3 linked regions of the Homo sapiens genome follow. The protein of the gene in region 2 interacts with the protein of the main gene of each other region in a biochemical or structural test. Each region holds a gene or a part of one and is shown on either strand. Other genes may lie near its edges. The genes, in order: ESR1, PPP5C and CSNK1D.

Evidence for each region.
Region 1: the proteins of PPP5C (region 2) and ESR1 form a complex in vitro, tested with the Homo sapiens proteins (one study listed by BioGRID).
Region 3: of the proteins of PPP5C (region 2) and CSNK1D, one has a biochemical effect on the other in vitro, tested with the Homo sapiens proteins (one study listed by BioGRID).

What each region holds. Positions count from the first base shown.
Region 1 is NC_000006.12:152,100,632-152,103,827, forward strand, and holds the end of ESR1 (estrogen receptor), read left to right. Parts: 3' UTR 1-2,643; downstream 2,644-3,196.
Region 2 is NC_000019.10:46,350,036-46,353,684, reverse strand, and holds part of PPP5C (serine/threonine-protein phosphatase 5), read right to left. Parts: intron 1-3,649. UniProt on the Homo sapiens protein: Serine/threonine-protein phosphatase that dephosphorylates a myriad of proteins involved in different signaling pathways including the kinases CSNK1E, ASK1/MAP3K5, PRKDC and RAF1, the nuclear receptors NR3C1, PPARG, ESR1 and ESR2, SMAD proteins and TAU/MAPT.
Region 3 is NC_000017.11:82,246,121-82,249,769, reverse strand, and holds part of CSNK1D (casein kinase I isoform delta), read left to right. Parts: exon of another isoform or gene 1-72; intron 73-167; coding exon 168-339; intron 340-755; coding exon 756-895; coding exon of another isoform or gene 896-1,051; exon of another isoform or gene 1,052-3,298; intron 3,299-3,304; coding exon of another isoform or gene 3,305-3,406; exon of another isoform or gene 3,407-3,572; intron 3,573-3,649. UniProt on the Homo sapiens protein: Essential serine/threonine-protein kinase that regulates diverse cellular growth and survival processes including Wnt signaling, DNA repair and circadian rhythms. It can phosphorylate a large number of proteins.

The sequences.
Region 1 (3,196 bases), on a different chromosome or scaffold from region 2:
GAGAGGTGATGTCTGTGTTAGCCAATGACCCAGGTGAGCTGCTCGGGCTTCTCTTGGTATGTCTTGTTTGGAAAAGTGGATTTCATTCATTTCTGATTGTCCAGTTAAGTGATCACCAAAGGACTGAGAATCTGGGAGGGCAAAAAAAAAAAAAAAGTTTTTATGTGCACTTAAATTTGGGGACAATTTTATGTATCTGTGTTAAGGATATGTTTAAGAACATAATTCTTTTGTTGCTGTTTGTTTAAGAAGCACCTTAGTTTGTTTAAGAAGCACCTTATATAGTATAATATATATTTTTTTGAAATTACATTGCTTGTTTATCAGACAATTGAATGTAGTAATTCTGTTCTGGATTTAATTTGACTGGGTTAACATGCAAAAACCAAGGAAAAATATTTAGTTTTTTTTTTTTTTTTTGTATACTTTTCAAGCTACCTTGTCATGTATACAGTCATTTATGCCTAAAGCCTGGTGATTATTCATTTAAATGAAGATCACATTTCATATCAACTTTTGTATCCACAGTAGACAAAATAGCACTAATCCAGATGCCTATTGTTGGATACTGAATGACAGACAATCTTATGTAGCAAAGATTATGCCTGAAAAGGAAAATTATTCAGGGCAGCTAATTTTGCTTTTACCAAAATATCAGTAGTAATATTTTTGGACAGTAGCTAATGGGTCAGTGGGTTCTTTTTAATGTTTATACTTAGATTTTCTTTTAAAAAAATTAAAATAAAACAAAAAAAAATTTCTAGGACTAGACGATGTAATACCAGCTAAAGCCAAACAATTATACAGTGGAAGGTTTTACATTATTCATCCAATGTGTTTCTATTCATGTTAAGATACTACTACATTTGAAGTGGGCAGAGAACATCAGATGATTGAAATGTTCGCCCAGGGGTCTCCAGCAACTTTGGAAATCTCTTTGTATTTTTACTTGAAGTGCCACTAATGGACAGCAGATATTTTCTGGCTGATGTTGGTATTGGGTGTAGGAACATGATTTAAAAAAAAACTCTTGCCTCTGCTTTCCCCCACTCTGAGGCAAGTTAAAATGTAAAAGATGTGATTTATCTGGGGGGCTCAGGTATGGTGGGGAAGTGGATTCAGGAATCTGGGGAATGGCAAATATATTAAGAAGAGTATTGAAAGTATTTGGAGGAAAATGGTTAATTCTGGGTGTGCACCAGGGTTCAGTAGAGTCCACTTCTGCCCTGGAGACCACAAATCAACTAGCTCCATTTACAGCCATTTCTAAAATGGCAGCTTCAGTTCTAGAGAAGAAAGAACAACATCAGCAGTAAAGTCCATGGAATAGCTAGTGGTCTGTGTTTCTTTTCGCCATTGCCTAGCTTGCCGTAATGATTCTATAATGCCATCATGCAGCAATTATGAGAGGCTAGGTCATCCAAAGAGAAGACCCTATCAATGTAGGTTGCAAAATCTAACCCCTAAGGAAGTGCAGTCTTTGATTTGATTTCCCTAGTAACCTTGCAGATATGTTTAACCAAGCCATAGCCCATGCCTTTTGAGGGCTGAACAAATAAGGGACTTACTGATAATTTACTTTTGATCACATTAAGGTGTTCTCACCTTGAAATCTTATACACTGAAATGGCCATTGATTTAGGCCACTGGCTTAGAGTACTCCTTCCCCTGCATGACACTGATTACAAATACTTTCCTATTCATACTTTCCAATTATGAGATGGACTGTGGGTACTGGGAGTGATCACTAACACCATAGTAATGTCTAATATTCACAGGCAGATCTGCTTGGGGAAGCTAGTTATGTGAAAGGCAAATAGAGTCATACAGTAGCTCAAAAGGCAACCATAATTCTCTTTGGTGCAGGTCTTGGGAGCGTGATCTAGATTACACTGCACCATTCCCAAGTTAATCCCCTGAAAACTTACTCTCAACTGGAGCAAATGAACTTTGGTCCCAAATATCCATCTTTTCAGTAGCGTTAATTATGCTCTGTTTCCAACTGCATTTCCTTTCCAATTGAATTAAAGTGTGGCCTCGTTTTTAGTCATTTAAAATTGTTTTCTAAGTAATTGCTGCCTCTATTATGGCACTTCAATTTTGCACTGTCTTTTGAGATTCAAGAAAAATTTCTATTCTTTTTTTTGCATCCAATTGTGCCTGAACTTTTAAAATATGTAAATGCTGCCATGTTCCAAACCCATCGTCAGTGTGTGTGTTTAGAGCTGTGCACCCTAGAAACAACATATTGTCCCATGAGCAGGTGCCTGAGACACAGACCCCTTTGCATTCACAGAGAGGTCATTGGTTATAGAGACTTGAATTAATAAGTGACATTATGCCAGTTTCTGTTCTCTCACAGGTGATAAACAATGCTTTTTGTGCACTACATACTCTTCAGTGTAGAGCTCTTGTTTTATGGGAAAAGGCTCAAATGCCAAATTGTGTTTGATGGATTAATATGCCCTTTTGCCGATGCATACTATTACTGATGTGACTCGGTTTTGTCGCAGCTTTGCTTTGTTTAATGAAACACACTTGTAAACCTCTTTTGCACTTTGAAAAAGAATCCAGCGGGATGCTCGAGCACCTGTAAACAATTTTCTCAACCTATTTGATGTTCAAATAAAGAATTAAACTAAAGACAACGAGTTTGTTTTTTGTAAGCTCCACTTCTTGCTAGCAGTTCACCACTGATCCTCTAAAATCAAAGTGGTTAAACGATCTGTCACACACAGTGAGTCTGAATGCTAAAGCCTCTCCTCACCTCACTCCCTCTGCCCAACACCCCCAGGTGTATCAGGAAGTGTGTGGACACTGTGGTCAGGCAGAACTGGCCTCAATTCTTGGCTTCACCACTTACAAATTTTATGATCATTGGCAGTTGATTTTTCAGAGTTTCGGCTTCCTTATCAACAATATGATGATAAGTAATAACACCTAATTCACACGATGGTGGTGAGGACTAACTGAGGTGCTCATTAAACATAGTTGCTGTTTTTTAATGCCTGGCCCAAATCCTTCCCTGTGAGGGAGAAGAAGGATGCTTGAGAGTGGTTATTTATGAATGAATGAGTGAATGGAAGAATGAGTGATCTGAAATGATATAATTAGCTTAAAAACCTCTCCCTCATTCTGAAGGTAAAGCAGGAACAATTGGTCCACCCCCACCCCAGGTTTCCATTTCAGGACTCCC
Region 2 (3,649 bases):
GGGTGACGCCCAGTCTCCCTGTTCACAGATGGGGAAGCTGAGGGCTACCCTGAGCCCAGAGACATCTCTTCAGCCTGCCCCTCCTGCCTGTCCCAACCAACCTAGCTCAGGGCTTGTCCTCTCGGCCACAGTCTCCAGGACTCCACACACCCGCCCACCCACCCCTCCAGCCCCAAGCTGGGCACTAGCAGCAGACTGAGGGAAGAGCACTCCGATAGCAAGAAGAGCAGGTGCAGAGGCCCAGAGGTGGTTGAGCCTTGTCTGAGGGCCAGTGAGAGCTGAGGCAGCTGGGTGGAGTGGGCAGGGGGAGGAGAGATGAGGCAGGGAGGCTGGTGGGACAGATCCCTGGGCCCCGGGCAGCCACAGTGAGGTCTGGACACTGATGTTCTAAGTGTGGAGTGACAGGATGTGACATCTGGCCAAGGAGGAGAGGTCGGATTTTATTTGAGATGAGCTATAGCTGTACCCTGCACTTTACCTCGTGACCTGTGGAATCCTCATGTCTCCACGGGAGTAAGGACCATCTGGTGCTCATTTTACAGACAAGCCATGGAGGTCTTGCTCAAGGTCAAATGCCCTGTCTGCACCTGCAGAGCCAGGCTTGATCCCTCCCTCGTGCCCATTTGACAGGCAGGAGAGCCAAGGCTTAAACAGCCTTAGAGGCTTGTCCCCACTGGGGGCCGTGATGTACCAGAGCCATGCAGGGCTTTAGTACACAGGTCCCCCTTCACTGAACTCTCACAAGCCCAGGGAAACTACATTAACCCCCGTCTCCAAATCTGGGGACTGAAGCTCAGGGAAGAAAGGCCGGTGCTCAAGGTCACACAGCAGGTGACAAGTGGGCCTTCTTTTTTTTTTTTTTTTTGAGATGGAGTCTCGCTCTGTCGCCCAGGCTGGAGTGCAGCGGTGCGATCTCCGCTCACTGCAAGCTCCGCCTCCCAGGTTCACACCATTCTCCAGCCTTAGCCCCCCGAGCAGCTGGGACTATAGGCGCCCGCCACTATACCCGGCTAATTTTTTGTATTTTTAGTAGAGACGGGGTTTCACCGTGTTAGCCAGGATGGTCTCGATCTCCTGACCTCGTGATCCTCCTGCCTTGGCCTCCCAAAGTGCTGGGATTACAGGCGTGAGCCACAGCGCCTGGCCGAGAAGTGGGCCTTCTGAGCCAGGCCAAGACCAAAAGGCTCCCACTCTCACGCCCCATGCCATGGTGACCTCTGGGCAGGAGCGTGGCACAGGGGTAAGCACAGAGGCAGGAGTAGGTGGCCTGGGCCCAGTCCCTAGCTCTGCCTCTTACTACCTGGGTATCCCTGGGCTACTGAGGAACCCCCTGTGGACTAGGGTTTCCTAGAGTCCTTCTACCAGCAGCCCTGCACAGAGTCCCCACCCTCACTCCCATTTTAATGTTCTCAACAGCACTCCGAGAGTCCTTCTTACACACAGCCCTGCCCTCCCAGGGCTTACCATCCAGTGGAGGAGACAGATCCATCCCTAGACAGTGGTGCCCAGTGTTTAGGGTTGGGGCAGCTCGGAGGGGACACTGGGGCTGAGACCTGGAGGATGGGAGTCAGTTGGTTGAAGAGATGGAAGAAGAGAGTCCCAGGCTCCATGAGTGGCTCCAGAGGGAAAGGAAGGAGGGATGCAGAGAGAGATGAGGACTGACATTACAGAAGGGAGAAGCCGGGTCCTGGGGATGTGGCCAGCAACAATCTAACAACATTCCTCTTTGCCACGCCAACTCCTGGCAATCTTTCAAATGCTCACATGTCCCCTCCTCCGGGAAGCCCTCCTTTACTCCCAGGCTGGGTCAGGCCCCCGACTGGGCTGCCCCAGCCCCTGGGATCTCCTGTGCCAGCCCTGTCCACTCTCATCGTCACTGTTGAGTAATGAGTGTGTCCCTCCAGAGCTGTAAGCCCCAGGAGGGCAGGGCCCGGGACTTCCCAAAAACAAACAAGGGCAGAACTGGGCAGCCCAGATCTGACCGACCCTCCCTGGAATGCCAGCGCCTTTGAGGACTCCTTCAGGCCTCCTGGCTGTGGTCCAGAGGCTGCCTGGCCCGCGCTCCTGATGGGGCAGCTGTTACTCCAGTGGCACAGGGAGGGGATCCTGGAGTCTCAGGGCCTGCCACCCGGCTCTGCAGATCTCTAACTCGAGGCTGCAGGCAAATAGCCTCCTCTTTCTGAGCTCTGCCTCACTGGGTGGCCGTGAGGATTTTACGAACTTGTGTAAGAAAACTGGCTGCAGCAAAAGAAGCAGGCAAAAGAAGTGAATGCGTGAATGACTAAATGAAGGGAGGAAGTGAAGGGAACAAGAGGAAATGGGAGGAGCCTGTACTCCACGGGTCGACCCACATGCCATATCCTGGCCCTGTTCTATGCGCTTTACAAACAGGACCATATTTAAGCCTCAAGACATTCCCCATTTTAGATGCAAGGAAACAGAGGCCCAGAGAAGTTAAGTCATTTGCCCAGGCGTCATCAAGCAGGTAAAGGAAGACATAGGGTTTGAACCCAGGCAGCCTGAGCTCTCAACCATGGCCTGCTTCCTCCCCACAAGCTCTTATACCTGGAGCCTCCTTAGGGGTTAAGCATAAGCCCCCACCCCCCATTTTACAGAAGCGGGGCACTGAGGCCCACAGAGAGGGGAAGACAGTTGAGACACTTCCCTTAGACTCAGACATGAGACGGGGGACGAGGCTCTGCCCCCAGGATTTCTGGAATAGGCCTGAACTTACAGAGCAACCAGCCACAGTTGAGGGGACAGTCCTCTGAGCCCTGGGACCTCTCTTCTCCCTGCTGGGGCCCCTCTTCTCCTCAACAGGGCCAGTACAGCTCTGGGAGGAACCTGAACGTGGGAGCCAAGCACGTGGCGAGGAAGGGGATATCCGGGCCCTGCTGCTCACACACTCTGACCTTGGGCGAGTGGTTTTTTCACTTCTCCGAGCCTTGCTTCCTTTATAAAACAAACAGGGCCACTCCTAGCCATCTCCCAGCCCCCGGGGAGGATTAAACCCCACAGCGTACCTGGCCACAAGGCTCAATTAAGGTGAGCTGTCATTATTCTTTTTTATTGTTATTCCCACAGCCCTGGAGCCTGGGGCTCTGTGCCTGCTACTGCCTGACAGACAGCAAGGGGCCTGGGCCAGCAGGGCCGTTCTCCTCCGTGCCAGCTCAGTGCCAGGCCCCTCTGGCTGCCTGCCCAGCCCCAGGACTCCTGAGAGCCTGGATCCCAGGTCCTGGGGGGCAACAGGCTCCTCCCAATGGCTGCTGTGGCCCAGAATTCTGATGCGGCCTCAGCAGCAACCCCCATGCAGGCTGCTCCCATCCCAGGGAATTCCACCTTCCACCCCATCACCTGGCTGAGACAGCCTCATCCTGGACTCCTCTCCATCCCTCAGCCCCCAAAGCCCGGTAGTCACTTCACTTATTCTGCCAAGTCAGCCTCCTGAACATCTCTCAGATTCAGCCACTCCCTTCTCACCCTCCAGCCCCACCCAGCCCTGGTCTGGCCTCTCCTGCCCAGGTTCCTGGCTCAGCCTCCACCTGGCCTCGCAGCCTCTTGTCCTGCCCCTCCAGAGGGGTGTTCCTAAAACACAAACCTGACCCTGTCCTTTCCCTACTCAGAACCTCCCAGGGCTCCCCAGAGCCCC
Region 3 (3,649 bases), on a different chromosome or scaffold from region 2:
GCTGTCATCCCATGAGGAGAAACGTGCAGCCTGTGGGGGGCTTTGCAGGCAGTCTCGTCCCAGTGCCCTTTGGTAGGTATTTTCTCACGTGGCCGGGGCAGCCTAGGACCTAGGGTTGCTTTCTGCCAAAGCTGGTTCCATTCCGGCCTCACCTCCTGCCTCCTCAGGGTGCCAGCCGGGCCGCCGATGACGCCGAGCGGGAGCGCAGGGACCGAGAGGAGCGGCTGAGACACTCGCGGAACCCGGCTACCCGCGGCCTCCCTTCCACAGCCTCCGGCCGCCTGCGGGGGACGCAGGAAGTGGCTCCCCCCACACCCCTCACCCCTACCTCACACACGGGTGAGTGCCCCCCTCCCAGCGCTCTGGGGCTGGCTCTGGGGTGACTTCTTGTGTCTTGGGGTTGGTGGGGACAACAGGGTACTTGGTGGTGGACACTAAGTGCCCTGTGTCAGGCGATGCTCGCTCCTGAGGGTGGATGAGCCAGGCTGCCCAGGCGCCTTTAGAAATGCCGGCACCTGCTGGTGTGCGTGATTCCTCCCGCATCTCACGTTCCTCCCCTGTGAGCCCCTTGACCTCGCTCCCATGTCCCTTTGTGTCCCTCCGGCCGGATCTGAGTGTTGGTGGCCATCGGCCACAGCCAGGTCCTGACTGTCCAGGCAGCCCAGGGTCCTCTCTGGCCACAGCCTCTCATAGAAAGCCCCGAGTGAGAGGCAGCAGACGGGGGCGGCCCACTCCGTTTCTCTCCCTGTCCTCAGCTAACACCTCCCCCCGGCCCGTCTCCGGCATGGAGAGAGAGCGGAAAGTGAGTATGCGGCTGCACCGCGGGGCCCCCGTCAACATCTCCTCGTCCGACCTCACAGGCCGACAAGATACCTCTCGCATGTCCACCTCACAGGTAGGTGCAGAGCTCCCGGGCGGGCGCTGGGCCTCGGGCTACCCCGTCCGAGTCAAGAGCGGGCTGTGGTTTCTCCAGGGCTTCTTCTTTCCTTTCTTCCCCCCATTTTTGAGAGTTTTTAATCTCGCCAGGGTGTGGCGTCTTGGTTGCAGATGAGGCTTCTCGGGAGGGCCTGGGAGACATGCTGGGCCGTCATGGGGCTTGTCTCCTGGTTGCAGGTGGCCAGTCTCAGGTCTCAGGTCCCTGAGGCCAGCAAACCGTGGGGGCTTTCTCCTGCTGTTTGAGTGCCCCGCTGCCCGCAGCCGTCCCCAGGCAGCTGACACCGCTCGCCTGCTTGCGCCCCATTGTGGGTGCCCCCAGCCCGAGGGAGCCTTCCTCATTCTTCCTCATTCTTGCCACTGGCCAGGGATGGAGGCCCGTAGGGACCTCCACGGGCTTCTTGTGAGACCCTCCCTGGTGGCATGCCCTGCAACGAGGCTTTCCTTCTTTTGACGGCCTCACCTGTCTTCCCTTGGACGAGAAGTACCCTGTTGCGCAGCCCAGGCCTAGCCACGGCCACCGCCTCTTCAGCATCCTGCAGCGGTCTCTCCTCTCCTCGCTCTGGCTTTTGTTGTCTTTTGCGTTTGCTAACGTGCTCTTTGAACTAGAACAGCTTTCTCCATATGGATCCATTATATTTCTTCAAATAGTTTTCTGGGTTGTTCGCCAACAGGGGCAGGGTTAGTGGGGCAGGGCTGTTTCACCAGCAGGCATCCTGGGGGGTGCCCAGATCCCCCACGGGTCTTCCGGATGAGCAGGAACTCAGTTCAGAAATGCCCTGGAGCCTGGCTCTGGGCTTGTGGGGAGGTGTTTGTTGGGATCACAGGATGGAGCCAGGCCTGCTGCCGTGAGCGGGGCTGGGTGTAGCTGGCTAGCCAGGAACATGCCGGAGTGGGGAGCACTCTTGACCACTTGCCGTCTTTTAATGATTGGGGTTTTACTGCACGTTTCTAATTCACTAATAATTTCACTAGAAACAGACCTTTTTGTATAACTTCTTCCCAAAGAGACCAAAGATGCAGGGATTTTGGCTTCGTGGTTATTTTGACTTTGTGGTTATATGAATTGGGCTCGAGGGGTCTGGGCTGCGTCACGAGAATGGGTCCCTTACGTGCACACAACCCTGCTGTCACCTCCAGACACAGCACAGAAAGGGTTTAACTGGCTTCTTTCCACGAGCCTGGCACTTGCGCATCAGTTCCTGTGAGCAGTTCCCGGGAGGGTCTGCCCGTGCCCTCGTGTCTTGATGTGCGGCTGGCTCTGTAGCCCCTGAACCATGGTACAGGAGCCCAGAGTGCTCCCCATGCTGGGTGCTGACCGGACTTGGACAGCCTCGCCCCAGCGCTTGGCTGACAAAGACTAGGGAAGGGGCCTGAGTGCTTTTTGTTTCTTTTAAAGAAAGTAAAGTGTCCAGTGGTTTGGGATCTTTGTGGGCAGTGAAGGTGTCCTGAGCGTGCTGAGTAGCCACAGCCCTGAGTCCAGCTGCCTTTTCTCGGTACACGGCCTTGGCGGCACCTGGGTGTGGCTGTTGTAGCCACCAGCCCCCAAGGTGGCCGTGAGCAGTGTCTCCTTCCATGGTGAGCTGTGGCAGGAACCCGCAGCTGGCTCTTAGGCCCTCGTTTTCCATATGAGGAAATACAACGTGGGCTCTAACAGCAGGGAGGAGTCTCCAGAGAGAGCTGGTTTGGGGGTGTGTTCTCTCCAAAAGAAGCCTCTTGGCCTCTGCTCCTGGACACCCTGGGGGGCCTTCCTGAGAGGCATGTTGAGGGCTCCCCACCTCCAGGGCGGGCCCCCTCCTTTGTCACCATCTCACAGGAAGGCTTTGGCCGTGTGTCCTTCCTGCCAGACTCTGCCAGCACCAGCACACGTGGTGGCTGTGAGCAGCAGCTCCCGTTTTGAATCCCAAGGGGGAATACAGGAGGCTCAATTGCTCTGAGCGCCTCACCTGTTTGCTCGGGTGAGCTGGAGACACAGTCACCGTGGGCAGTGACTCATCCCCGGCCAGTCTTCCTCCTCGGGCCGTCGCTCTTCCCTGTTCTTTCTGCTCCTCTCAGGAGACCTTGCGCCCTGTGGAGATGGGAGGAGGCAGCAGGAAGGTCTCCCAGGGCTTGCTGGCCGTGGCTGGGTGTGGATGGGTGGAAGACCACGTGGCAGCCTGCCTGTAGGTCACAGAGGCCCCCATAGTTGTAGGGCCCCGCCCCAGCCCGGACTCCGCCTGGGTCTGTTCCCTCTTCGCCCCCTCTCTTTTCGGGCTGTTGGTGTTCGGCCAGGGCTCTTTGGCTACAGTAGCCTGGGCCCTAAAGGCCATCTAGTTGCTGAGTCTGTTTGGGGTTTTTACTTGGTGAGAAGAAGGCCTTGTCATTCCAACAGTCGATGACTCGCTTTGATCAACTCCTGCCCAGGACTAGGCCTGAGCCCTGTCGTCGTACCGGCGAGGATGTGCGTCTCCCCTGCCTTCAGGCTGTGCCCTGAGACCCAGTTGTGGGGCTGCCCAGCACCTGCCATCCTGCTGGGATCAGGTTTTCTTAGTGCTTGAGAAGACTCAGGAGGGCCTGTCCCATGCCATTGTTGGCCTTAAGAGCAAGTGATTCCAGAAGAGGAGTGGGCACCACTCTCATCCAGAGGCCCGTCCTGAGAGGCAAGTGAGGCTGTGCTCTGTGCCTGGGCTCCCCCAGGTGGCACCTGTCGGTCTGTGGACCTGGTTGAGGCAAGGAT